7 linked regions of the Homo sapiens genome follow. The protein of the gene in region 1 purifies or fractionates together with the protein of each later gene. This does not show direct contact. Each region holds a gene or a part of one and is shown in the gene's direction. Other genes may lie near its edges. The genes, in order: ENTREP3, NEDD4, HERC3, ACP2, NEDD4L, ANKRD13A and ITCH.

Region 1 (2,890 bases):
TTTTGTATTTTTTAGTAGAGACAGGGTTTCACCCTTTTGGCCAGGCTGGTCTTGAACTCCTGACCTCAAGTGATCCACCCGCCTCGGCCTCCCAAAAGGATTTATTTTTTGAAACCAGTTCCACAGCTCTCAGCTTGGTCCACTTATCTGTCCTCCCCAAGCTTCAGCTGTCACTTGTTAAACATGTATAATAATAGTACTTCAGGCCGGGCACGGTGGCTTGCACCTGTAATCCCAGCACTGTGGGAAGCTGAGGTGGGTGGATCACCTGAGGTCGGGAGTTCGAGACCAGCCTGGCTAACATGGTGAAACCCTATCTCTACTAAAAATACAAAAATTAGCCAGGTGTGGTGGAGCGCGCCTGTAATTCCAGCTACTAACAGAGAGGCTAAGGCAGGAGAATCGCTTGAACCTGGAAAGCAGGGGTTGCCGTGAGCCAAGATCATGCCACTGCACTCCAGCCTGGGTGACAGAGACACACTCCATCTCAAAAACACAAACAAACAAACAAAAAACATGTATAATAACAGTACTTCAGCCATAGGCATTGTACTCGAAGATGCTGAGAAAGGAGACAGTGGCCGGGCAAGGCTGTTCACACCTATAATCCCAGCACTTTGGGAGGCCAAGGCAGGTGGATCACCTGAGGTCAGGAGTTCAAGACCAGCCTAGCCAACATGGTGAAACCCCCATCTCTACTAAAAATTGAAAAATTAGCTGGGCCTGGTGGTGGACGCCTGTAATCCCAGCTACTAGGGAGGCTGAGGCAGGAGAATCGCTTGAACCTGGGAGGCGGAGGTTGCAGTGAGCTGAGATCGTACCACTGCACTCCGGCCTGGGCAACACAGTGAGACTCCATCTCAAAAAAATAAGAAAGGAGATAGTACTGGGGAACGCTCAGCACTGTGCGCCAGGTGCTGAACAACACCACTGCAGTCCTTGTTGTGGTGGATTGTACCATCTAGTTGCTGGCTAATATGGACAGAGATGCTGGCCCTTTGATTGGGGATGGAGCGTGGGAGCTGTGAAAGCTCCTCTGGGCTTGAGTTCCCACAGGAGGGTGGGCGTGTCCACAGAACACTTCCACTCACTCCCTGTCTCCCTTTCTCTCTTCTCCCCAGCTGACTTCAGGGACCTTTATACCAAAGTGCTTGAGGAAGAAGCTGCTTCTGTTTCCTCTGCAGATACAGGTCAGGCATGTGGTTTGCGCCCCAGGGATGGGGATTGGGCATGGCTGCCCAGCCCCCTCTCCACCCTACAATACCATTCTCTTATCTCTGTCTCTCTGCAGGGCTCTGCTCTGAAGCCTGCCTCTTCCGCCTAGCCCGCTGCCCTTCCCCCAAGTTGCTACGTGCCCGGTCAGCCGAGAAACGGCGCCCTGTGCCCACCTTCCAAAAAGTTCCCCTGCCCTCGGGCCCTGCACCTGCCCACTCCCTGGGGGACCTAAAGGGCAGCTGGCCAGGTCGGGGCCTGGTCACTCGTTTCCTCCAGATATCCAGGAAAGCCCCAGACCCCAGTGGGACTGGAGCTCATGGACATAAGCAGGTAGGAATTCGGGGAGCCAGGAAAGATGTTTGGGAAAGCGTGGAGCTTCAGATTGAGCCTTATTGATGATGCCCTTTCTTGTGTCCCTGTCCAGGTGCCCCGGAGCCTGTGGGGCCGGCCTGGCCGAGAGAGCCTCCACCTTCGCAGCTGCGGAGATCTGAGCTCTAGCTCTTCCCTGCGGCGTCTCCTGTCTGGCCGCAGGCTGGAGCGTGGTACCCGCCCCCACAGCCTCAGCCTCAACGGGGGCAGCCGGGAGACTGGGCTCTGACCTAGGCTTCTTGTCACACTGAACACATCCAGCCACAGGCACCAGCTGGTTGGGACCAGCAGCCCCCAGCATCCTCTTGCACTGGCTGGCACAAAAAGAAACCTGCTGTATACCCCCCAAAGTGTCCCTTTCCCTCCTACCTCTGGGGTCTCTTGCTGCTTGCCTCTGCTGCTCTGGACTGGGAGAGCTTCTGTCCTGTGCTGCATGGGTATTTAGACTGTGGGGGAGATGCCCCTTCTTATAGCACTGGAGGAGGAAAACAAATTCTTGTCCCCCTCAGAATGAGAGTGGCTCTTTCTGATTTGCAAGGGCACTATGGTCAGGGCAAAGGCATGGCCCAGGTGTTTAAGTACAGGGTGACGTGTGCCTATGCAATGGGGTGGTAAGGCAGGCACGAAGAGTCCAAAAAATCTAGGTGGCCTCTCAGCTCTGCCACCTCTAGCTGCATGACCTTGGGCAAGCTATGTAACCCCAATTGCCTGCTCCATTAAAGACTGTGAAGGTAGAATGTTTGTAAAGCTCTTAACAGTATGTAAGCCTTCAATAAATTTCAGTTTTCCCCTTGTTTTCTTGATCATTCTCTGTCACCAGTGAAATTTGTTCTAGTGTCTCTCATATTTAAGAAAACTCTTTCAGGACTGGGTATGGTGGCTCACACCTATAATCCTAGCACTTTGGGAGGCCGAAGCAAGAGGATCGCCTGAGCCTAGGAATTCAAGACCAGCCTGGGCAACATAGTGAGACCCTGTCTCTACAAAAAACAAAAAATTAGCCAGGCATGGTGGGACACGCCTGTAGTCCCAACTACTCAGGTGGCTAAGGTGAGAGGATCACTTGAGCTTGGGAAGTCCAGGCTGCAGTAAGCTGTGATTGAGCCACTGCACTACAGCCTGGGCAACAGAGCAAGACCATGTCTCAAAAAAAAAAAAAAAAGAAAAAAGAAACTTTCAAGACACTCTTTCCAACCACTAATTGTAACTCTGCTCCTCCTTTTCACAGCAATAGGTTTTCTTTTTCTTCCCTCCACTGTTAAACATCCATTCTCTCCTCACCCACCCCCATCAGACTCCTTCCCCT
Region 2 (3,500 bases), on another chromosome or scaffold:
CTTCTTTTTTGGAGGTGACAGAATATTGATGGCATGTTTTCTCTTACTGGTTTCCCCTGGAAATTTGCCCATGAAGTACTGAGGAATAAAATATTTAGATATATCTTTTGTAAAATTTACAATAAGTTCTGCCTAAAGCATAGTTGTGTACATTTGTCACATAAGCAAAGAACGTACAAAAGATTAGTGAGGCAATGTAGCTCCATTAATTAAGAGCACAGACTCAGGAGCTAAGACTTTCTTAAGTCGTCTTCTTCAGTTTTATGTGTAAAATGAAGACAATAATAGTAGCTTTCGCATAGTGTTGTTATGAGGTTAAACACGTTAACCTGCCATTCCAGGGTACCCATGCCTGGCTGTTTTAGTCCGTTTTCATGCTGCTGATAAAGACATACCTGAGACCAGGCAATTTACAAAAGGAAGAGGTTTATTGGACCTACAGTTCTACATGGCTAGGGAGGCCTCACAATCATGGCAGAAGGCAAGGAGGAGCAAGTCACATCTTACATGGATGGCAGCAGGCAAAGAGAGAGCTTGTGCATAGAAACCATTAGATGTCGTGAGACCCATTCACTATCATGAGAACAGTGCAGGAAAGATCCGCCCCCATAATTCAATCACCTCCCACCAGGTTCTTCCCATGACACATGGAGATTGTGGGAGTTACAATTCAAGATTAGATTTGGGTAGGGACACAGCCAGAATATATCACTGGCACAGTCTGTAAATGTCACCATCTGTTAATGAGTGAAGCAAGATAGACTCCAGGGAGGAAAGTAGAGGTAGGGAAAAGCCTGAACAGACAGGCACAACAGCTAGCAGGCAGTGGCTATCCTACAGGTCACAGAACGGTGTTCATTGGAACTTAATATGAAAAGGACTGTTAACGAAATGCCTTCATGGGGGCATTACCATCACCATCAATTGCTTCTTTAGGCCGGGTGCCATGGCTTATGCCTGTAATCTCAGCACTTTGGGAGGCCAAGGCGGGAGGATTGCTAGAGCTTAGGAGTTTGAGACCAGCCTGGGCAAGATGGCAAGACCTCAAAAACTTAAAAAATTAGTCAGGCATGATGGCATGCGCCTGTGGTCCAGTTACTTAGGAATCGGAAGCAAGAGGATCACTTGAGCCCATGAGGTCGAGGCTGCAGTAAGCCATGTTCACGCCACTGCACTCCAGCCTGGACTACAGAGCTGTCTCCAAAAACAAAAGCTTCTTCAGATGTAAAGAAGTCTATATTACTAAGTGATTAAAGAAAATGCAGAAACTGTCTCATACCATAGAGGAAACCAAGACAATATACCTAGTTGTGTTTTCCCTGAGTATATTACGTAAGGAAAAAGAGACTTGGACACAGGGTGTAGAGGGAATGTTATAACTTTATGAGAGATGGGTTTGTTATTATGTTGAACTGATTTAAACAGTACGTCTCTCCTCTGGATTTTCAGAATGACATTCCAAACAAATTTGAAATGAAACTTCGCCGAGCAACTGTTCTTGAAGACTCTTACCGGAGAATTATGGGTGTCAAGAGAGCAGACTTCCTGAAGGCTCGACTGTGGATTGAGTTTGATGGTGAAAAGGGATTGGATTATGGAGGAGTTGCCAGAGAATGGTTCTTCCTGATCTCAAAGGAAATGTTTAACCCTTATTATGGGTTGTTTGAATATTCTGCTACGTAAGTACCTTTACAATGATTATCGGCAGAAAAAGAAAAATCACTGTTTTAAAAGTAAGAGTCGGCCGGGTGCAGTGGCTCATGCCTGTAATCCCAGCACTTTGGGAGGCCGAGGCGGGCGGATCACAAGGTCAGGATATCGAGACCATCCTAGCTAACACGGTGAAACCCCGTCTCTACTAAAAATACAAAAACTTACCCAGGCGTGGTGGCGGGCGCCTGTAGTCCCAGCTACTCAGGAGGCTGAGGCAGGAGAATGGCGTGAACCCGGAAGGCGGAGCCGAGATCACGCCACTGCACTCCAGCCTGGGCAACAGAGCAAGACTCCTCTAAAAAAAAAAGTTACCATTTTAGCCATTTTAAATATACAATTTAGAGTCATTACATACATTCACATTGTTGTGCTGCCATCCCACTATCCAACTCTAGAACTTTTTCATCTTCCCAAAATGAAACCCTATACCCAGTAAGCACTCGCTCCCCATTCCCTGGCAGCCACCATTCTGCTTTCTGTCCCTATGAATTTGACTCCTCGGGTACCTCACATAAGTGGAATCATTCAATATTTGTCTTTTTGTGACCAGCTCATTTCACTTAACATGATGTCTTCAGGGTTCATCCATGTTGTAGTATGTATCAGAATGTCCTTCCTTTTTAAGGCAGAATAATATTCCATTATTTTTGCATATAATGCTTTGTTTAGGCTGGGCGTGGTGGCTCATGCCTGTAATCCCACCACTTTGGGAGGCCAAGGCTGGTGGATCACAATGCCAGGAGTTCAAGACCAGCCTGACCAACATAGTGAAACCCTGTCTCTACTAAAAATACAAAAATTAACCAGGCATGGTGGCGGGCGCCTGTAATTCCAGCTACTTGGGAGGCTGAGACAGGAGAATCACTTGAACCTGGGAGGCGGAGGTTGCAGTGAGCTGTGACCGTGTCATTGCACTCCAGCCTGGGCGAGAGCAAGACTCCATCTCAAAAACAAACGAACAAACAAAACTTTGTTTATACATTCATCTGCCAAAGGACATTTGGGTTATTTCCACTTTTTGACAGAAATTACTATTTTTAAAACCATTAAATCCAGTGGAGGAATGTGGTTCTAACAGTGGTAAACAACTCTTAAAGGAGGAAGATTATTTGTAATTATTTGTCATATTAAAGTTTTTCAAATGAAGTATTTAAATGGGGTTGTCTTTACAGGGACAATTATACCCTACAGATAAATCCAAACTCTGGATTGTGTAACGAAGATCACCTCTCTTACTTCAAGTTTATTGGTCGGGTAGCTGGAATGGCAGTTTATCATGGCAAACTGTTGGATGGTTAGTATTAAGTATAAACTTTTTACAATATAATTACCTGTTTTCTTTCACTTGGTAATCATCCTAAATGTATTTGGTTTTTTGCAAGGTTTTTTCATCCGCCCATTTTACAAGATGATGCTTCACAAACCAATAACCCTTCATGATATGGAATCTGTGGTATGTCTTTTTCACTTATAGTATAGACGAAGTATAATTTAACAAGCAGCTTGAACATTTTGAAGAATTTGCTTTTAATGACATGGAAATTAATATATTATCATGTTTCAAAATACAAATGAACTTTTTCCTCAACATTTTATTATGAAAATTTTCTAACATATAATAAAGTTGGAAGAATTTTACATTGGACAGTTGTATATCAACTACTCACAATTGCTTTTTTTCTAGATTTACTTTATCACATACCTATCTGTCTATCCATCAGTCTGTCTTAGTTTCTTCATGCATTTCAGAGTAAGTTATAGATAACATTAAACATCCCACTAAATAC
Region 3 (3,500 bases), on another chromosome or scaffold:
TAAAAATTACTTACTATGTACCTTACAGGGTTATGGGGAGGATAGAAGGAGACAAGTAGGTAAAATACAGTATGTGCTTGCACTGTATGGACTCCCTCTTCCCCACCTCAAGGGTACAATTTCTCTATTATCTGTCTTTGTTCTTCTGACCTGCTTCTTTTCTACAACTGATTGTGACAAGAGTAATGGTGATGGGGAATTGTTGAAGCAATTCTCTGCCTCAGCCTCCCGAGTAGCTGGGATTACAGGCATGTGCCACAACGCCCGGCTGATTTTTTTTGTATTTTTAGTAGAGATGGGGTTTCATCATATTGGCCAGGCTGGTCTCGAACTCCTGACCTCAGGTGATAAGCCCACCTTGGCCTCCCAAAGTGCTGAGATTACAGGCGTGAACCACTGTGCCTGGCCTTAAAAAGACTTTTAGGCAAGATGGTGTTATTTATTACTGACATTTTATTTAATTGGGAATATTTCTGATAATTGTGTTTGTGTGTGAATATCTATCTGAAAAAGAAAGCCTTTTCTGTTTTAGGTTAATACAAAAGCTGAACCAGCAAACAATATTACAAGTTTCCTGTGGCAACTGGCATTGCTTGGCTCTTGCGGCTGGTAAAGTAACATTAAACATATGCTAATGCTATGTTAATTTTGAAAACATTTCTCTTTGTCTTTTTGTGTGATATTATCTAACTGAAAACTTTGAATTAACTGGTTAGGGTCTATGCATTGCTGTTGGACAGTGACAATTCTCATATGGGCTTTGCATAGCTCATCCTTTTCTCAGGGTGTGGGTGATGAAGTAGGTGGTCATCATTGCTGCTCCAACTTTCACAGGGGAAGATAAGCAGGGGGCAGGACCATACCTAGGTGTTCTGAGCATGGAGGAGATTGATTTTTCTTAGCGACAGCCAACTCTCAAGCTACATTCCACTATCAAGCTCCCAAATGAATGAAAAAGAAGGAGTTGGAGAAACCTAAATAAATCTGCACTTCTGTGTCCTGCTTGATTATCTGCAGAGCAGACCAAGTGGTCATTGCTGGACCTCCCGAAGTCTTGGGTCTCATAGTCTTAGTGTGGTCAGAACTAGTGTGATCTTGCTTAAGCCTGGTAATTGGCCTGTCCGAAATTGAATTTACTTATACATTTAATATTTTCTGTGTATAAATTTTAATAGCCTTTGAAGGGCAGTAAGACTCAGCTTACCTCTCTGTTATATCACTTGGGAGTTTTGGTTTTGGCAGTCTGATAGCATGAAGTATCTCTGTTCCTTTGCTCTTGGGTGGGTTTGGTGTTGGGGGGCAACTGGCAAATGACCCTAATAACTAGATTATTTTTGTGTGTGGAGCTTGTATCATTTTATGGTAATACCAGTTATCCTGTTATTTCAGATGGCCAGTTCTTCACCTGGGGAAAGAACAGCCATGGGCAGCTTGGCTTAGGGAAGGAGTTCCCCTCCCAAGCCAGCCCACAGAGGGTGAGGTCCCTGGAGGGGATCCCACTGGCTCAGGTGGCTGCCGGAGGGGCTCACAGCTTTGCCCTGTCTCTCTCAGGAGCTGTTTTTGGCTGGGGGATGAATAATGCCGGGCAGCTAGGGCTCAGTGATGAAAAAGGTAGGTAAACCCTTCATATGTATGTATTTAGTTTAAAAGCACATTCATTTAACACATGCTTCTTGAGGATCTACTATGTGCTAGCCCCATGTGAGATACTAAGGGAGAAGCAGTGAACACAATAGAGAACATCCTCGTCTTAGTGGAGACTGTATTCTAGTGAGTAGAGGTGCAACAAAACCAGTAAATACACAGGATTTGAGAGTGCAGCTTCCTGCTTTACATAAGGTGGTGGGGAAGGGCCCCTCTGATAAGAAAATGTTTGAGCAGAACCTGTAGGAAATCAGGTGGGAGATGGGACATGTAAATGTCTGGGTGAAAAATGTTCCTGTCAGAGAGAACTGGGTGTGCAAAGGTGCTCATGTGGGAAGAGATGTAGTTGGAGAGAAGGGGAAGAGTAGCACAGCTGCAGGTCAGAGAAGTCGTGTAGACCCAGTTATGCAGGGCCCTGAGGGGCAGGGTGAGGATATAACTGGTTTTCTCAGTGAGAGGGGAAGACCCTGAGGGTTTGGAGGAGAAGCGTGATCCACTTTGGCTTTGGCTGTAGTGGGTCAAGGGGGAAGCTGGAAGACCAGCTTGGAGGTTGTGGGAGTAAAGTCAGATTTTAAACATATTTTGAAGATGAGGCCAGTTGGTTTTGTTCACTGTTGGATGTGTGGTTTGAAATAAAGGAACAGCTGGAAGGGCAAAATGACTGTTTCTGAAATGGGGAAAACCGTGTGTAGTAAAGTGAGCTGGAGAGTGGGCAGGGTTGGAGAGTGTAGGGAAACCATGAGGTAGGTTTTAGGTAAATTAAAACTGAGAAGTCTGTTGGATATCCAAGTACAGATGCAGGCAGGAAACTGAACATGCGTCAGGAATCCAGGAATCCAAAATTCATGCCAAGATAGTTGTGTATATTTCATCTCAAAGGCAAATGGTAGTGATATTCTGATATTTAATTTATTCTAGATCGAGAATCTCCATGCCATGTAAAACTCTTACGCACGCAAAAAGTTGTCTATATTAGTTGTGGAGAAGAACACACAGCAGTTCTCACAAAGGTAAGGAGCTCAGAGTATTTTACTTTGGTGCTGGGGATATGATGGGTGATTAGAATTGCTTGATTATGTTAGTGTAGTGATGGTGTGTGATTACAGTATTGTGGCTTGAACTTGAATGCTCTCTTTTATGTGGGTTTGTTGTTTTCCAAAGGAATAGAAAAAGACTACTTTTTTGTATGTCTCTGTTATCCTCTTTGGTAATCTTGTAGATTTTTCATATATATATATATATATATATATATATATATATATATACACACACACACATAATGTAGATTATATATATATACACACATATAATGTAGATTATATAAAAATGTAGATTATATATATAAATATAATGTATATATTTATATATATATAAATTCCTTGGTTCTTTATGGAACAAAGACAGCACTTTGTTATTTTTATTTGTTATTTTATGTATATATAATATATATAAAATGATGTCCTATGTTCCTTTAAAACAAGTCATTTAAATATGTAAAAAAGAAACAGCAATTTAATTAATGTTTTAAAATAATCATGTTTCTTTTGCTTCTAAATACATTCTAGAGAGAATGAAAATGTATTTTTATATTGAACAAATATTATTCTACGTTCACTTTGATAAAATGCCTTAACATTTATTTAAATACAGCTGTTAAAAAAACAGCTTACTTACCAAGGAATTTGTAGAGCACCTAATTTCTTACATGTGAATGATCATGTAAAATCATCTCATTTAGCCTAGCTCCTAGTTTCTCCTTTTTTAAAATTTTGCTTCCTAACACATCATTGTACTTTCAAACGATTTTAAAAATTTACAGAAGGCACACATTCCTTTGAGCATTGCTATCTTTGTTC
Region 4 (3,500 bases), on another chromosome or scaffold:
CCTCTCAGAATGGAATCCTTGAAAGAGCTGCCTAGAATCTGGCTCTGCTTCCTCACCACTTGTTCTCTTAGACTCACATTAGACAGTCTTGTGTCACCTTCCACTACCCTGAAGCCATACTTGTCTGGTGACCAGTCACCTCCTACCAAAGCCAGTGACTAATTCTTAGCTTCTCTCACCTCTCAGCAGCATTACATAATTGGTCACCCCTTCCTGAAACACTTTCTTGGCTTCTGACTTTCAGGCGTCCCTTCCTCACTAAAGAACGGATGACCCAGGACTCATCCCTGGAGCTTTCCCCATCTGTGCACACTCCCAAGTGATCTCATGCAGCCTCATGACTTTATGCCCATCTCCATGCCCACTTCTGTCCTTACGCCCTGACTCACAGATTCACAACCTCTTCTCTGAGCTAGAGACTCATATCCAGCTGCCAACTTGAGATCTCTACATGCATGTTAAGTAAGGCATCTCAAAGTTGCAATGTCTAAAACCAGATGCTTTTCCTTCCACAGCTGCTCTTCTTCCAGGCTTCCTTGTTTCAGTCAATGCCACGAGTCACCTAGTGGCACAGTATAACCCTTGGGGTCATTCTGCATACCGTTTCTCATACCCCTCATCCAGCCCACTGCCAGATCAGCTCAACCTTTCAAATATTAATATGTGCTCTTGCCTCCGCAGTCCAATCTACCGTCAGCTCTTGCCTGACCGAATGAAAAGCTTCCTAGTTCTTTCTGGTTCTATTCTTGTCCCTACCAGTCTTTCAACACAGCAGAGTTAACTTTTTTTATTTTTTTGAGATGGAGTTTTGCTCTTGTTGCCCAGGCTGGAGTGCAGTGGCGCAATCTCGGCTCACTGCAACCTCCGCCTCCCGGGTGTAAGTGATTCTCCTGCCTCAGCCTCCCGAGTAGCTGGGATTACAGGCATGCATCACCATGCCCAGCTGATTTTGTATTTTCAGTAGAGATGAGGTTTCTCCATGTTGGTCAGGCTGGTCTCAAACTCCCAACCTCAGGTGATCCGCCCGCCTTAGTCTCCCAAATTGCTGGGATTACAGGCATGAGCCACCGCGGCCGACTGAGTTAACTTTTAAAAAATGTAAACCAGTTCATACTACTGTCCTCTCAGAATTTTCTAGTGGCTTCCCATCACATATAGAATAAAATCCAAGTTCTTCACCATGGCCTTCTAGGCCCTACTCCATCTGGTCTCCTGCCCCATCTCCTACATGCCCCTTGCTTACTCTACTCTGGTGAGACTGACTCTTGATGATACTAGCATGTGCCAGGCTTATCCCCACATCTGGGCCTTTTGCCCTTCGTCTCCTCTGCCCTGTGATACTCTTCTCAGATTGTTGTATGTCATTCATTGACTCCAGGTCTCTGTTAAACTTCTCACTTTCTCAATGATGCCTTCCCTGCTGACCTACTTTGCTTTGTCTCTCTGTATCACATTCGTCACTGACCTGTCACTCCTAATTTTTTTTTTTTTTTTGAGACGGTGTCTCATCCTGTCACCCAGGCTGGAGTGCAGTGGCGTGATCTCGGCTCACTGCAACCTCTGTCTCCCAGGTTCAAGCAATTCTCCTGCCTCAGCCTCCCGAGTAGTTGGGATTACAGGTGCACACCACCATGCCCAGCTAATTTTTTGTATTTTTAGTAGAGACGGCATTTCACCACGTTGGCCAGGCTGGTCTCAAACTCTTGACCTCAGGTGATCCACCCACCTCGGCCTCCCAAAGTGCTGGGATTACAGGTGTGAGCCACTGCGCACGGCCAACTTTATTTAGTAGAGATGGGTTTTCACCATGATGGCCAGGCTGGTCTCCAACTCCTGACCTCAGGTGATCTGCCCACCTCAACCTTCCAAAGTGTTGGGATTATAGGCGTGAGCCACTGTGACCAGCCCATTTGCTTATTTATTACATCCCCTCTCCTAGAATGTAAACTCCATGAGAGCAGGGACTCTGTCTTGGCCACCTCTGTGTATCTCCTATATGTCAGAACAGTAGCTGGCATATGATGGAACGCTGACATGACCTTTCTCTTGCCTCCCCCATGCCCAGAGGTGATTGTGGCCTTGGCTGTATGTGGCTCCATCCTCTTCCTCCTCATAGTGCTGCTCCTCACCGTCCTCTTCCGGATGCAGGCCCAGCCTCCTGGCTACCGCCACGTCGCAGATGGGGAGGACCACGCCTGACAACCACTCAGCCCCCTTCCCTCCACCTCCTAGGGGAGGTGGGCTGGGCCCTCGCTCCTGACTGTTGCTGCTCCCCAGCCCATGGACAGGAGATCCTGGGTTGGGCCTCCCTCTGATGACCCCAGCCAGATGAGCGAGTGGGGCTCAGCGTGGCCCATGGTGCCTGTCACTCAGCATTCCCATGCCTGATGTTTACCAAGTGCTGTGTTGGACACTGGCTTTCTCCAAACAGGATTTGCCTCCTCCACGCTCCCTACACACCTGAGATGTAAACTGGCAGTCAGTGTTCACTCAGGACCTAGGATTAGAAAATGGCAGAGTTGGTGCTGGATCCACCTTGCACTTCTATCAAGCCCTGTTCTTTTTCCTCCAGCCTGAAGTCTTCGGCAAATAGCTCAGAGGGACACGGTCTTGCCTCTCAGTGCTTATTTTAGTGGGAAAAACAGCTAATACCAGGGGTACAAACATTGGCTCCCAAGGAACTGGATCACCCAACAGCCAGCCAGCCACATTTCCCTGTGTCTGGCTAGAGCCACCATTAGACTCAGACAGAATGCTTCAGGAATCGTTGTCACCCCTTCAACTGGAGCAGGACGGAAGGTTGTCTGTACTTGGGAGGGAGTAGGGAGTGGTGGGAAGGGAGTTGCTTGTCACACGAATCAGGAAACTGCTCTCCCTCAGCTGGGCTGGGGTCTCCAGGGACCTGAGCTACATGCAGGTTGTGAGCTGGAAAAGAAAGTTCTAGACTGTGGCCCAGAATAGGGCTGGGGCAGCTCCCAGAGAATGAATAGTGCTGTTTCCTATTGGACTGATAGTGCTGTTTCCTGTGCTTTTTCTTCATTTCTGAGACGCAAGAAGCTCTCTGACCAGGTCACTTCTGGAAGATCCACGCAGAAGCTCAGTCGGTATGGTTTTATTGGCCATATCAAAAGTGAGCACAAATCAAATAACTGCTTGATCCCTCTGCTACCACCCACTGAGAGGAGAAAAGTCATTTAGTTCCAAGATAACCTTGGTTCCAGGCTAGATACAGAGGGGCCCTTGGGACAGCTGTGTCACCAACTCTGGAGCAGTCTCTGGAGGCAAGTCCAGAGCATTAACATAAAAGTGTCCCAGTCCCACAGTGCCCCAGGTCCCAGCACCCCTGCTCCAACCCTAACCTTGGATACTTTTGGCCCTTTAACAAATCGCCACCTCTGCTTGCAGGACTTGATCCCATGTGTGGGCTCCAAGGCCTTGTCTGGCCCACACCTTCTTTAGTGTCTCTCACTTCCGTGTCCTGGCTTCCTCCTGGCTCCAGA
Region 5 (3,500 bases), on another chromosome or scaffold:
TAGCTGGGATTACAGGCGCCCGCCGCCATGCCCAGCTAATGTTTGTATTTTTGTGAAGATGGGGTTTCACTGGCTTGGTCAAGCTGGTTTCAAACTCCTGACCTCAGGTGATCCGCCCACCTCAGCCTCCCAAAGTGCTAGGATTACAGGTATGACCCACCACGCCCGGCTGAAAAATGCAGTTCTTAATCCAAGTTCGGGCTCACATGTAGTTTTGGGAGAAGGCAGAGGCATAACTGCCCCATCAAGGAGGCAGCAATGCCAAAGGGAGAGGCTGAGCCAGGAAGGACACAGCAGAACTTGGCAGAACCTGAGGAGCGCCTCCTTCCAATGGGCATAACTTCTAGAAGGCAAGAGGAAAGTTAGTTAAGGAAAAAGAGTTTCCACCACAACCTCTGCTAGCAGGCCCTTTATTGGGATACAGTATAAGTTCATTTCAGAATGTGTGAGAAAACTTTAAAATTTGTGTTTTAGAAAGAGTCTATAATGAGTGTTCTTGATAAGTACTATATTTCAGTTAGTCTGAAATGACGATTTCAACTTTTGAGATACTGACTTGTGACATAATTTTTGTTAATGGGATATGTTATCTTATTGAAAGTATCTGTGAGAGTTTTCCCTGAAAAAATTTTTGGCATTTAAACTTGTACACTAAAAGCCTCTGACTAGTATTTCCCCCAAAGTATGATTGCCTATAATTTACTGCAAAAAAAAAAGTTTTCTTTTTTCTTTTTTTTTTTGTTTTGTTTTGTTTTGAGATGGAGTCTCACTCTGCTGCCCTGGCTAGAGTACAGTGACATGATCTCTCAGCTCACTGCAACCTCTGCCTCCTGGGCTCAAGTGATTCTCCTGCCTCAGCCTCCTGAGTAGCTGGGACTACAGGCACGCATCACCACACTCGGCTAATTTTTGTGTTTTTAGTAGAGGCGGGGTTTTGCCATGTTGGCCAGGTACGTCTTGAGCTCCTGACCTCAAGTGATCCGCCCGCCTTGGCCTCCCAAAGTGCTGGGATTACAGGCATGAGCCACCATGCCCAGCCCAAAAAAGTCTTCCAAATTGAATCAAAACTTTTAGATCCTGAATTGAGAACATCACATGACAAAAAATAGGGTATGATGTTTTGGTGTTCTTCAGACCCCGGCTGACTTGAGAGGTTATCTCCTGATGTTATTAGGATTTTTAAAGTAGGGTAAAGGAGGTAAATGCAGTGTCACGATTTTGAGATTCTGTTAAAATGAGCTAGAAAGCAGCTGAAAAAAATTCATGTTGGATCAGGTGTACTTTCCTCCAGATGACAGCTTTGAATTTGTCCCTTTTGTAGTCTTTGGTCAAATTGCTGGTGACCAGAAGTAGCTGCCTTGTCATTGCTGGACTTCTAGAAGGATTGGGACTGCCCAGCTGCTGTGTGAACTTGCCTGTCACCTCTGCTTCCAGAGGTCTGACTTGTCACTGTGGCAAATGGGCAGAGGACTTTGATTTCTGTTTTTTATTAAACACTGAGGTATATTTTGAAATGTATGCCTGAAAGATGCTCAAAATGGTGTGACTAATGCATTTTAAAACTGCATTTATTTGATTGAAATGAACCTTAACCTATACTTTAGCCGTAATATGGTGGGAGAATTCTCACATTGGATGACCAGCTAGTTGTCAGTGTTTGACGCTGACACTTTAGTGGCCATCTGGCCCTCCGTGAGCATTGAACTGTCATGAAGGGCCCGATCTCAACCACTTCTCTTCTTCTCTTTCCCCCTTTCCTGCATGCTCAGGGACGTGTCCTCGGAGTCGGACAATAACATCAGACAGATCAACCAGGAGGCAGCACACCGGCGCTTCCGCTCCCGCAGGCACATCAGCGAAGACTTGGAGCCCGAGCCCTCGGAGGGCGGGGATGTCCCCGAGGTACGATGTCCCCAGAATGGTGCAAAGCCCGGCAGCTCCTTCTTCCCATGTTCTCCAGCTTGATTTTATATCATAATTTCTTCTGTCAGTAAACATTGTTGAGAATGTAAAGATTACAGTGACGCAGGGAATTAATTACCATCTGAATATTAATTTGAAAGTGCCTATAAAAGCCGTATTTGACAAGTATAGGTGGCTCTATATTATAGAAATGGGAATAACATTATTTTTATTTTTATTTTTTTTGAAGACAGTGTCTTGCTCTGTCGCCCAGGCTAGAGTGCAGTGGTGCAGTCTTGGCTCACTGCAACCTCCGCCTCCTGGGTTCGAGCAATTCTCCTGCCTCAGCCTCCTGAGTAGCTGGGATTACAGGCACGCATCACCACACCCGGCCAGTTTTTGTATTTTTAGTAGAAATGGGGTTTCACCATGTTGGCTAGGATGGTCTCAATCTCCTGACCTCGAGATCCGCCTGCTGCCTCAGCCTCCTAAAGTGCTGGGGTTATAGGTGCATGCCATCACAATGGCTAATTTTTTTTTTTTTTTTTTTTCCTAGTAGAGACGGGTTTCACCATGTTGGCCAGGCTGGTCTTGAACTCTTGACCTCATGATCCACCTGCCTTGGCCTCCCAAAGTGCTTAGATTACAGGCGTGAGCCACTGTGTCCAGCCCACATTATTTTTCAGTATGAAAATCTTAAGATATTTTTAGTTTGTAATTTATTTTTCACAGGGGTCTAACCATGTCTCATTAAATGACAGCTTGTTTTTATCATAGTTGAGCTGTTGAATGAGCCCTGTAACTTGTTTGGGTATCATATGCATATTTTTATTGAGTCGCTTTGACACTTGGAAGAGATTTATTACCATGAAAATATAAATTTAGGTGAACAGAAATGTGTAATTTTCCCTTTAAATAGTTATGGTATGTTACTTAAAACGTTATGAATTAAACAACAAATTAGCCATAATCTTCCATGCTATCTTACCAGCTCTGTTTATGTACTAAAAATCCATTCTTCTTAGACATTGTGTTAGGAAGATCATTTAGAATGCGGCGATTCAACTTGGAAAAGCAAAAGTAATGATTCCATAACACATTCACTCTAAGTTATTTTATACCATTGTTTAATTACAGCGTATAGCTTCTATGCTGCTCCCACGGTGAATCCTCAGTGGTTAAAAGTAAAAGAAAATCCATGACAATTGTTTATAAACTCCAGAGAAGTGTGTGTGTGTGTTTGTTTTTTTGCCCACACATATAGTAACAAGTGCTGGAAATCAGTCACTGTTCAGAGAGGCATTGTTATAAAGTGGTTAAGAGCACAGCCTCTGTCTGGAACCAGGCCTCTTTGATTCACATCATGGCCCTACCACTTGCTAGATGTTACCTTGGGCAGGTTATTTTCTGTGCCTCAGTTTCCTCATCTGTTAATTGGGGGAGTTATCTTCCTCGTGATTATTGTGAAGGTTGTGTGCCTCATGAGAGGCACTTAGTAGGTGTTAATTATAGTTATCACCGGGGCTATTGTTGTTACATGGTTTCATTGGGGAGCTGGGTGGATCCCTACTTCTTTCTAGTGTTTACCCCAGTGTCTC
Region 6 (3,500 bases), on another chromosome or scaffold:
GAGGTGTTTCCCCATAGTTGGCCTCAGCTGTAATTAAAGCTATTCGTGAGGGCTTGTTTATGTGTTATCAAGAACAATTGTTGAATTCAGCCAAAAAAGGAGATAAGGACATTTGAGAATATTTATCATTGGAATGAGTGATTTAGTCCAAACTATTGTGATGAAAGATTTAGACAGAACTTGGGGTCCAAGCAAAAACATTGCATGTGGTTGCCACATCCCAGCCCCATCCCAGCCCCACCAGTTCTATGGCCTTGTGAAATTACTTCTGCTCTGTGCCTTAGTTCCTCAGCAGTGAAATGCAGGTGATACCCAACCTTCCTTAGAGTTATTGAGAGGATTAGATGAGTTACGACGTGGAAGCCTTTAGAATGGCGCCTGCAGTATGTGGTAAGCATGCAGTAATTGTTCACCAGCACCACCACCACCATTGCCATTACTCCACTTTGACAGATGAGGGAACTGAGGCCCAGAACACATGGGTAGCGAGTGGCCAAGGTGGGGTTGGAATCCAGGTCTGGCTCACTCCAAAATCCAGACTCTTCCCATTATTCTGCTTTAATTCTTACAACTGTTTATCTAGTTTAGAGATCCTCATGAAAAGCACCCTATAAAGGATAAATTAGTTTATGGTTATTGTGAATGATTTGATCAGCCAGTCTGTAATTGCATTTCCTAATGAGGTAGCTTGGACCAGAAACTTTAATGAAGATCTTTTTTTTATAGCCACAAGTGAGATATAATATTAGACTTTAAACTCCCTACCCCTCTGTAGCAGACAGGAACCCGCTGGAATCTTTGCTGGGAACTGTGGAACACCAATTTGGTGCACAAGGGGTAAGTTGAAGCAATGAGCTTTCATTGCAGTTAGATGAAAGGAAACAACTTGTCTGTGTCTGGGATGGCATTTACTGGATCCTGAACAGCCCACTCTATGTAAAGGCCAAAGATACCCCCAAGCTGGAATTTGAGATACTCTTTTGGAAGAGAATTAGATGAGTGACTCTTTGAAAATAAATAAGGATTTTAGAGGAGGGGTAGTGATTATAGAAATCAGGTGCTTTCCCTCTTATCCATTATAAACGAGGGGCCTCTTTATAGAAATGGAACTTAAAAAGGATTCAGGACTTTATATTGCAACAGAGCACCTTAACAAATATTTTCTTACTTGATGCTCACAGTAACTATATGAACTTGGTACAGTGGATGTCCCTGCGGGTCAGAAAAATGAAATTACCTTTCCACTATCAAAGCTAGACAGGGAAACAGCTAGAACTTCAACTCCAAGTCTTCCAAGTCTCATGCACTTTCAGATATTTCTTTCTTTTTTTCTTTGTTATAATCAGGAGATAAAAATGTAAAGGAGAGTAGAGAAATATTTTAAAATGAAGAAATCCATTACACTTCCTGTGTAGTTTGGTGATATCCTCATAGATTTTCTTGTTCCATGCAAAAAAGTTAGTGAATAGAACTTCCCGGTCTTTAGCTGGTTAACACGTCCACCTCAGACACTGAGTGCCACAGGCCTTCACTTGTGAACATCATTTGGCATTTCTGACTCTCCTGAGTTCTGGCTCAGCAGGACCTCACCACGGAATGTGCTACTGCAAACAACCCCACAGCCATCACGCCTGATGAGTACTTCAATGAAGAGTTTGATCTGAAAGACAGGGACATTGGAAGGCCGAAAGAGCTGACGATTAGAACACAGAAGTAAGAGAGGTTCAGCTGCCATTTTCAACCTATGTATGTTTCAGAAATTGTGCTGTTTTATGGTGTTATGTTGGATCATTCCACTGCCCTCCCCACCACCCTTATTTTTTTTTCAGACGGAGTCTCGCTCTGTCGCCTAGGCTGGAGTGCAGTGGCACGAACTCGGCTCACTGCAACCTCTGCCTCCCAGGTTCAAGCGGTTCTCCTGCCTCAGCCTCCTGAGTAGCTGGGACTACAGGCGCGTGCCACCACGCCCAGCTAATTTTTGTATTTTTAGTAGAGATAGGGTTTCACCATATTGGTCAGGCTGGTCTCGAACTCCTGACCTTGTGATCCGCCCGCCTGGGCCTCCCAAACTGCTGGGATTACAGGCATGAGCCACTGCGCCCAGCCTCCTCTGCCCCTTTTTATAAAAAATAATTTTAAAATTACTTTGCCATGAAAGCTAACAGTAGATTGTCCATGTTATTAGCTCCTTTCCAAATAGAATCTAGATTGGATGTAAGAATTCCTTTTTTTTTTTATTGCTAACCAGCTTCAGCTGATCAAATTCAAATGAAACTGTTCCACCCGCTATCATTTCTTCATGCTTGCTGTCAATTAAGGCTTTGATCGTGGCAGGTTGTCATGCAGGTCGCTTGCCTTTATTGCCAGATTTTAGGGTGATGTGAATTCCTTGTGGCCCTAGACATTTGACCTTTAATAGGTCTGAATTAAGAGATGACTGGGCAGAGTGTGGAGTAAAGCTGCTGTTGTCTAGCCTACTGCATAGCAATAATCTCCTTTTCCCATCTGGTGGAGATGACCTCAGTCTTTTCTTGGTTGAATTCTGCAGGTTTAAAGCAATGTTGTGGATGTGTGAAGAGTTTCCCCTCTCTCTGGTGGAGCAGGTCATTCCCATCATTGACCTAATGGCTCGAACGAGTGCTCATTTTGCAAGACTGAGAGATTTCATCAAATTGGAATTCCCACCTGGATTTCCTGTCAAAATAGGTACTGCTAAATAAACTTCAGCAACACTTGGAGGTTCTGCCCATGTTTGTGGGTGGCAGCATGTGGGTGGCAGGATGCTTCAGGGAATTGGAGTGCTTTAGGTCAAAGTAGCTTATAGACATAACAGAGGAGGTCAGAGTTCTCCTGTGGTTTGATTTAAAGAAGTGTTATGATTAGTGGTTCATTTTGTGTATCAAAGTCAAGAGATCTCCAACCATCATTTCTATTTGCAAATGGTGCTGACAGATATAAAAAGGCATAAAAACATGACACAGTCATTGTTTTAATGTCAAACCTTAATTCAGTGAGACTTCAAATTAGATAATTATTTGAGGAAGACAGTTGACACCAAGATCCTTTGATATGTAAATATGATCTACGTCCCAAGCTAGTATGCATAATGCTATATATGTATATATCATACATACTACTCATGAAGAGTATTAATTTTGGATAGTTGTATGTTCATGATACTTGAACCCTGGCTTGATCACTTACTCACTGTGATCTAGGAGAAAATACATAACTCATTTTCTCTTTTTTTTTTTTGAGATGGAGTCTCGCTCTGTTGCCCAGGCTGGAATGAAGTGGCATGATCTTGGCTCACTGCAACCTCTGCCTCCTGGGTTCAAGCGATTTTCCTGCCTCAGCCTCCTAAGTAGCTGGGATTATAGGCATGCATCACCACGCCCAGCTAATTTTTGTATTTTTAGTAGAGATGGGGTTTTATCATGTTGGTTAGGCTGGTCTCGAACTCCTGACCTCAGGTGATCAGCTCGCCTTGGCCTCCCAAA
Region 7 (3,500 bases), on another chromosome or scaffold:
TCTGTAATCTGCACGGTTTCACAGGAAAGCAGTTTTAAGGAGCTGGAAAATTAATAAATGAACTTAAAATACCAAGGAATATTAATAATTTCCTATTCTAAAAGTTTTTATTTCCAGTGACATCAGAAGATCAGAGAACCTGTACATGCTTCGTGATTAGTAATGGGACATAGGGGTAGACAGGACCGAAAAAGTAAACAAGCCTATTAACTGGCAGCGTTGGTTATTTCCCATTACTTATTTCTTTAAGTAATTTTCACCTGTGCATCTACATCTTAAGTTTTATATTTATCATCTGCCTTTTATTTTTTACAGTTAAAATTCTATCCTGAATTTTAGAAAATGAAAGATTCTTTTCCTATTTTCCCCAAATCTTTTATAGCATCTGTCAATGGTTCACCATCTGCCACTTCTGAAAGTGATGGGTCTAGTACAGGCTCTCTGCCGCCGACAAATACAAATACAAATACATCTGAAGGAGCAACATCTGGATTAATAATTCCTCTTACTATATCTGGAGGCTCAGGCCCTAGGCCATTAAATCCTGTAACTCAAGCTCCCTTGCCACCTGGGTGAGTAACTTTTTAAATTAACATATGTTGTCTTTAGGATTCTTCATAAGCCTACTTATTAATAAGGAAAATAACAGTAAACAACAGTAAACTCCATTGTTTTGATGACTGTTTTTTAATTTCTTTTTTTTTTGAGATGGAGTGCTCTGTCTCCCAGACTGGAGTGCAGTGGTGTGATCTTGGCTCACTGCGACCTCCGCCCCCTGGGTTCAAGTAATTCTCCTGCCTTAGCCTCCCTAGTAGCTAGGATTACAGGTGTGCACTACCAAGCCCGGCTAATTTTTGTATTTTTAGTAGGGGATTTCACCATGTTGGCCAGGCTGGTCTCGAACTCCTGACCTCAAGTGATCCGACCACCTCAACCTCTGAAAGTGCTGGGATTACAGGCATGAGCACCCAGCCAACTGTTTTTATGTTATTGTAACTGATTTTGGGGGATCTGGAGTCAAAATGAACAAGGAAAACACACCATATTTGAAATCTTCAGGGCAAAGTGGAAAAATATATTTTTTCATCAAAGGACCCTGAAAGTTAACCAAGGCCAATTAATAAAATAATCACCTAATTCCAATTGCCTTTTTCTTTAAGGGGGAAAAAATCCCTTTTTAATATCAAACTATTTTTTTCATCAGAAGATCATTATAGGCTGGGCATGGTGGCTCACGCCTGTAATACCAGCATTTTGGGAGGCCGAGGCGGGCTGATCACCTGAGGTCAGGAGTTCGAGACCAGCCTGGCCAACATGCTGAAACCCCATCTCTACTAAAAATACAAAAAATTAGCTGGGTGTGGTGGCAGGCGCCTGTAATCCCAGCTACTCGGGAGGCTGAGGCAGGAGAATTGCTTGAACCTGGGAGGCAGAGGTTGCATTGAGCCAAGATCTTGCCACTGCACTCCAGCCTGGGCAACAAGAGCAAAACTCCATCTTGGGGAAAAAAGAAAAATCATAGCAAAGTGATAGATAATTCAGAAAACTGAGAAAATTTGTGCTCATAATCCCATTTTAATCTCTCCTGATTATTTTAAGATTATTTTCATAGATTGTTTTTAAGATACTCAGGTGTAATTTTTTCTTGTTTATTTTTTGTTTGTTTGTTTGAGATGAAATCTTGCTCTGTTGCCCAAGCTGTAGTGCAGTGGTGGGATCTTAGCTCTCTGTAACCTCCGTCTTCCGGGTTCAAGTGATTCTCTTGCCTTAGCATCCTGAGTAGCTGGGATTACAGGTACCTGCCACCATGCCCAGCTAATTTTTTTTTTTTGAGATGGAGTCTCACTCTATTGTCCAGGCTGGAGTGCAATGATGCAATCTTGGCTTACTGCAACCACTGCCTCCCAGGTTAAAGTGATTCTCCTGCCTCAGCCTCCTGAGTAGTTGGGACTACAGGTGCCCACCATCATGCCCAGCTAATTTTTGAATTTTCAGTAGAAACGGGGTTTCACCATGTTGGCCAGGCTGGTCTTGAACTCCTGACCTCAAGTAATCCACCCGTCTCAGCCTCCCAAAGTGTTGGGATTACAGGTGAGAGCCACTGCGCCTGGCCATTTCTTTCCACTCAAATCCTGATTATACCCTGATTGAGAGTGACTTCGGTATCCTAGGTAGACGGACCTCAAGCCTCTTCAGGAATATGTTTTCTCCTAGAGCAGATACTTGCATAGAAGAAATTGAATTCACTGTGTGCCACTGCCTGAAGATTACATTTCTTCACTTTATTCCTAAATTGTATTTGTATCATCTTTCTAAACTGATGTCCTTATTTGCCTTAGTTCAATAATGGTCATTTAATGGAAATGCAAAGACAGGATTAAAAAGCCAGGTAACTCATGCAAGTATTTTACCAGCCTTTTAATTTTGTATTTAAGTTGGGAGCAGAGAGTGGACCAGCACGGGCGAGTTTACTATGTAGATCATGTTGAGAAAAGAACAACATGGGATAGACCAGAACCTCTACCTCCTGGGTAAGTATCTAAATTTAAAAAGAATAATTTTATTTAGTCAGAATTGTGGATTACAACTGTATAATCTTCCCTACATTTCTGTTTTACTTTTTCTTGTCAGCCCTTTCTCTGTCCACTTTGTTTTGTGGTAAGTACAAATTAAAAAGAAGAGAGCTAGACAACTGATTAATTCAGAGCCTGATAAACAATTTTTGTTTTCACGCATATTTCTTTCTTCTTTTCTTTATTTTATAGAAACAACATCTCGCTATGTCGCCCAGGCTGGTTTTTAACTCCTGAGCTCAAGCCATCCTCCCGCGTTGGCCTCCCAAAGTGCTGGGATTACAGGCGTGAGCTATCATGCCTGGCCCTATTTTCACTCATTTCTGACCTAAAGATTCCTTAGGTGGGCTGGGCGCAGTGGCTCACGCCTGTAATCCCAGCACTTTGGGAGGGCGAGGTGGGAGGATCACGAGCTCAGGAGATTGAGACCATCCTGGCTAACGTGGTGAAACCCCGTTTCTACTAAAAATACAAAAAAAAAAAAGCCAGGCATGGTGGCGGGCACCTATAGTCCCAGCTACTTGGGAGGCTGAGGCAGGAGAATGGCATGAACCCAGGAGGCGGAGCTTGCAGTGAGCCGAGATCTCGCCACTGCACTCCAGCCTGGGCGACAGAGCAAGACTCTGTCTCAAAAAAAAAAAAAAAATTTCCTTAACTTTTCTTGTCTAAGCTGTTTACCTGTTTACTAATACTGTAGTTTAAGTATTAGTTTCTTCAAGAGTAATTATTTAAATGAATAAGAATTAGAGCCCAGTCATATATTAAAATGAAGTTCTTATTATATTTAAAAAACTATAATAGCAAAATCATTTCAAATTAATTGGGGAAGTTAAGGATATATTAATACATGGTGTTAAGCCTTTAACATTAACATTAACATTACAGTCCAGGCACGGTGGCTCGCGCCTGTAATCCCAGCACCTTGGG

The links.
Region 2: the proteins of ENTREP3 (region 1) and NEDD4 purify together in Homo sapiens (affinity purification with mass spectrometry; 4 studies listed by BioGRID and IntAct, with this or other methods). This does not show direct contact.
Region 3: the proteins of ENTREP3 (region 1) and HERC3 purify together in Homo sapiens (affinity purification with mass spectrometry; 2 studies listed by BioGRID and IntAct, with this or other methods). This does not show direct contact.
Region 4: the proteins of ENTREP3 (region 1) and ACP2 purify together in Homo sapiens (affinity purification with mass spectrometry; 2 studies listed by BioGRID and IntAct, with this or other methods). This does not show direct contact.
Region 5: the proteins of ENTREP3 (region 1) and NEDD4L purify together in Homo sapiens (affinity purification with mass spectrometry; 4 studies listed by BioGRID and IntAct, with this or other methods). This does not show direct contact.
Region 6: the proteins of ENTREP3 (region 1) and ANKRD13A purify together in Homo sapiens (affinity purification with mass spectrometry; 4 studies listed by BioGRID and IntAct, with this or other methods). This does not show direct contact.
Region 7: the proteins of ENTREP3 (region 1) and ITCH purify together in Homo sapiens (affinity purification with mass spectrometry; 4 studies listed by BioGRID and IntAct, with this or other methods). This does not show direct contact.

The regions. Positions count from the first base shown.
Region 1 is NC_000001.11:155,246,705-155,249,594, reverse strand, and holds the end of ENTREP3 (protein ENTREP3), read left to right. Parts: intron 1-1,121; coding exon 1,122-1,190; intron 1,191-1,291; coding exon 1,292-1,545; intron 1,546-1,639; coding exon 1,640-1,813; 3' UTR 1,814-2,390; downstream 2,391-2,890.
Region 2 is NC_000015.10:55,840,113-55,843,612, reverse strand, and holds part of NEDD4 (E3 ubiquitin-protein ligase NEDD4), read left to right. Parts: intron 1-1,449; coding exon 1,450-1,679; intron 1,680-2,885; coding exon 2,886-3,007; intron 3,008-3,095; coding exon 3,096-3,166; intron 3,167-3,500. UniProt on the Homo sapiens protein: E3 ubiquitin-protein ligase which accepts ubiquitin from an E2 ubiquitin-conjugating enzyme in the form of a thioester and then directly transfers the ubiquitin to targeted substrates. Specifically ubiquitinates 'Lys-63' in target proteins.
Region 3 is NC_000004.12:88,651,480-88,654,979, forward strand, and holds part of HERC3 (probable E3 ubiquitin-protein ligase HERC3), read left to right. Parts: intron 1-532; coding exon 533-609; intron 610-1,389; coding exon 1,390-1,611; intron 1,612-2,562; coding exon 2,563-2,654; intron 2,655-3,500. UniProt on the Homo sapiens protein: E3 ubiquitin-protein ligase which accepts ubiquitin from an E2 ubiquitin-conjugating enzyme in the form of a thioester and then directly transfers the ubiquitin to targeted substrates.
Region 4 is NC_000011.10:47,238,815-47,242,314, reverse strand, and holds the end of ACP2 (lysosomal acid phosphatase isoform 1 precursor), read left to right. Parts: intron 1-2,065; coding exon 2,066-2,199; coding exon of another isoform or gene 2,200-2,232; 3' UTR 2,233-3,013; downstream 3,014-3,500. Other genes in the region: DDB2 (DNA damage-binding protein 2), read right to left, coding at 3,466-3,500.
Region 5 is NC_000018.10:58,327,226-58,330,725, forward strand, and holds part of NEDD4L (E3 ubiquitin-protein ligase NEDD4-like), read left to right. Parts: intron 1-1,769; coding exon 1,770-1,902; intron 1,903-3,500. UniProt on the Homo sapiens protein: E3 ubiquitin-protein ligase that mediates the polyubiquitination of lysine and cysteine residues on target proteins and is thereby implicated in the regulation of various signaling pathways including autophagy, innate immunity or DNA repair.
Region 6 is NC_000012.12:110,026,930-110,030,429, forward strand, and holds part of ANKRD13A (ankyrin repeat domain-containing protein 13A), read left to right. Parts: intron 1-775; coding exon 776-837; intron 838-1,579; coding exon of another isoform or gene 1,580-1,582; coding exon 1,583-1,713; intron 1,714-2,548; coding exon 2,549-2,706; intron 2,707-3,500. UniProt on the Homo sapiens protein: Ubiquitin-binding protein that specifically recognizes and binds 'Lys-63'-linked ubiquitin. Does not bind 'Lys-48'-linked ubiquitin.
Region 7 is NC_000020.11:34,439,773-34,443,272, forward strand, and holds part of ITCH (E3 ubiquitin-protein ligase Itchy homolog), read left to right. Parts: intron 1-382; coding exon 383-572; intron 573-2,435; coding exon 2,436-2,531; intron 2,532-3,500. UniProt on the Homo sapiens protein: Acts as an Acts as an E3 ubiquitin-protein ligase which accepts ubiquitin from an E2 ubiquitin-conjugating enzyme in the form of a thioester and then directly transfers the ubiquitin to targeted substrates.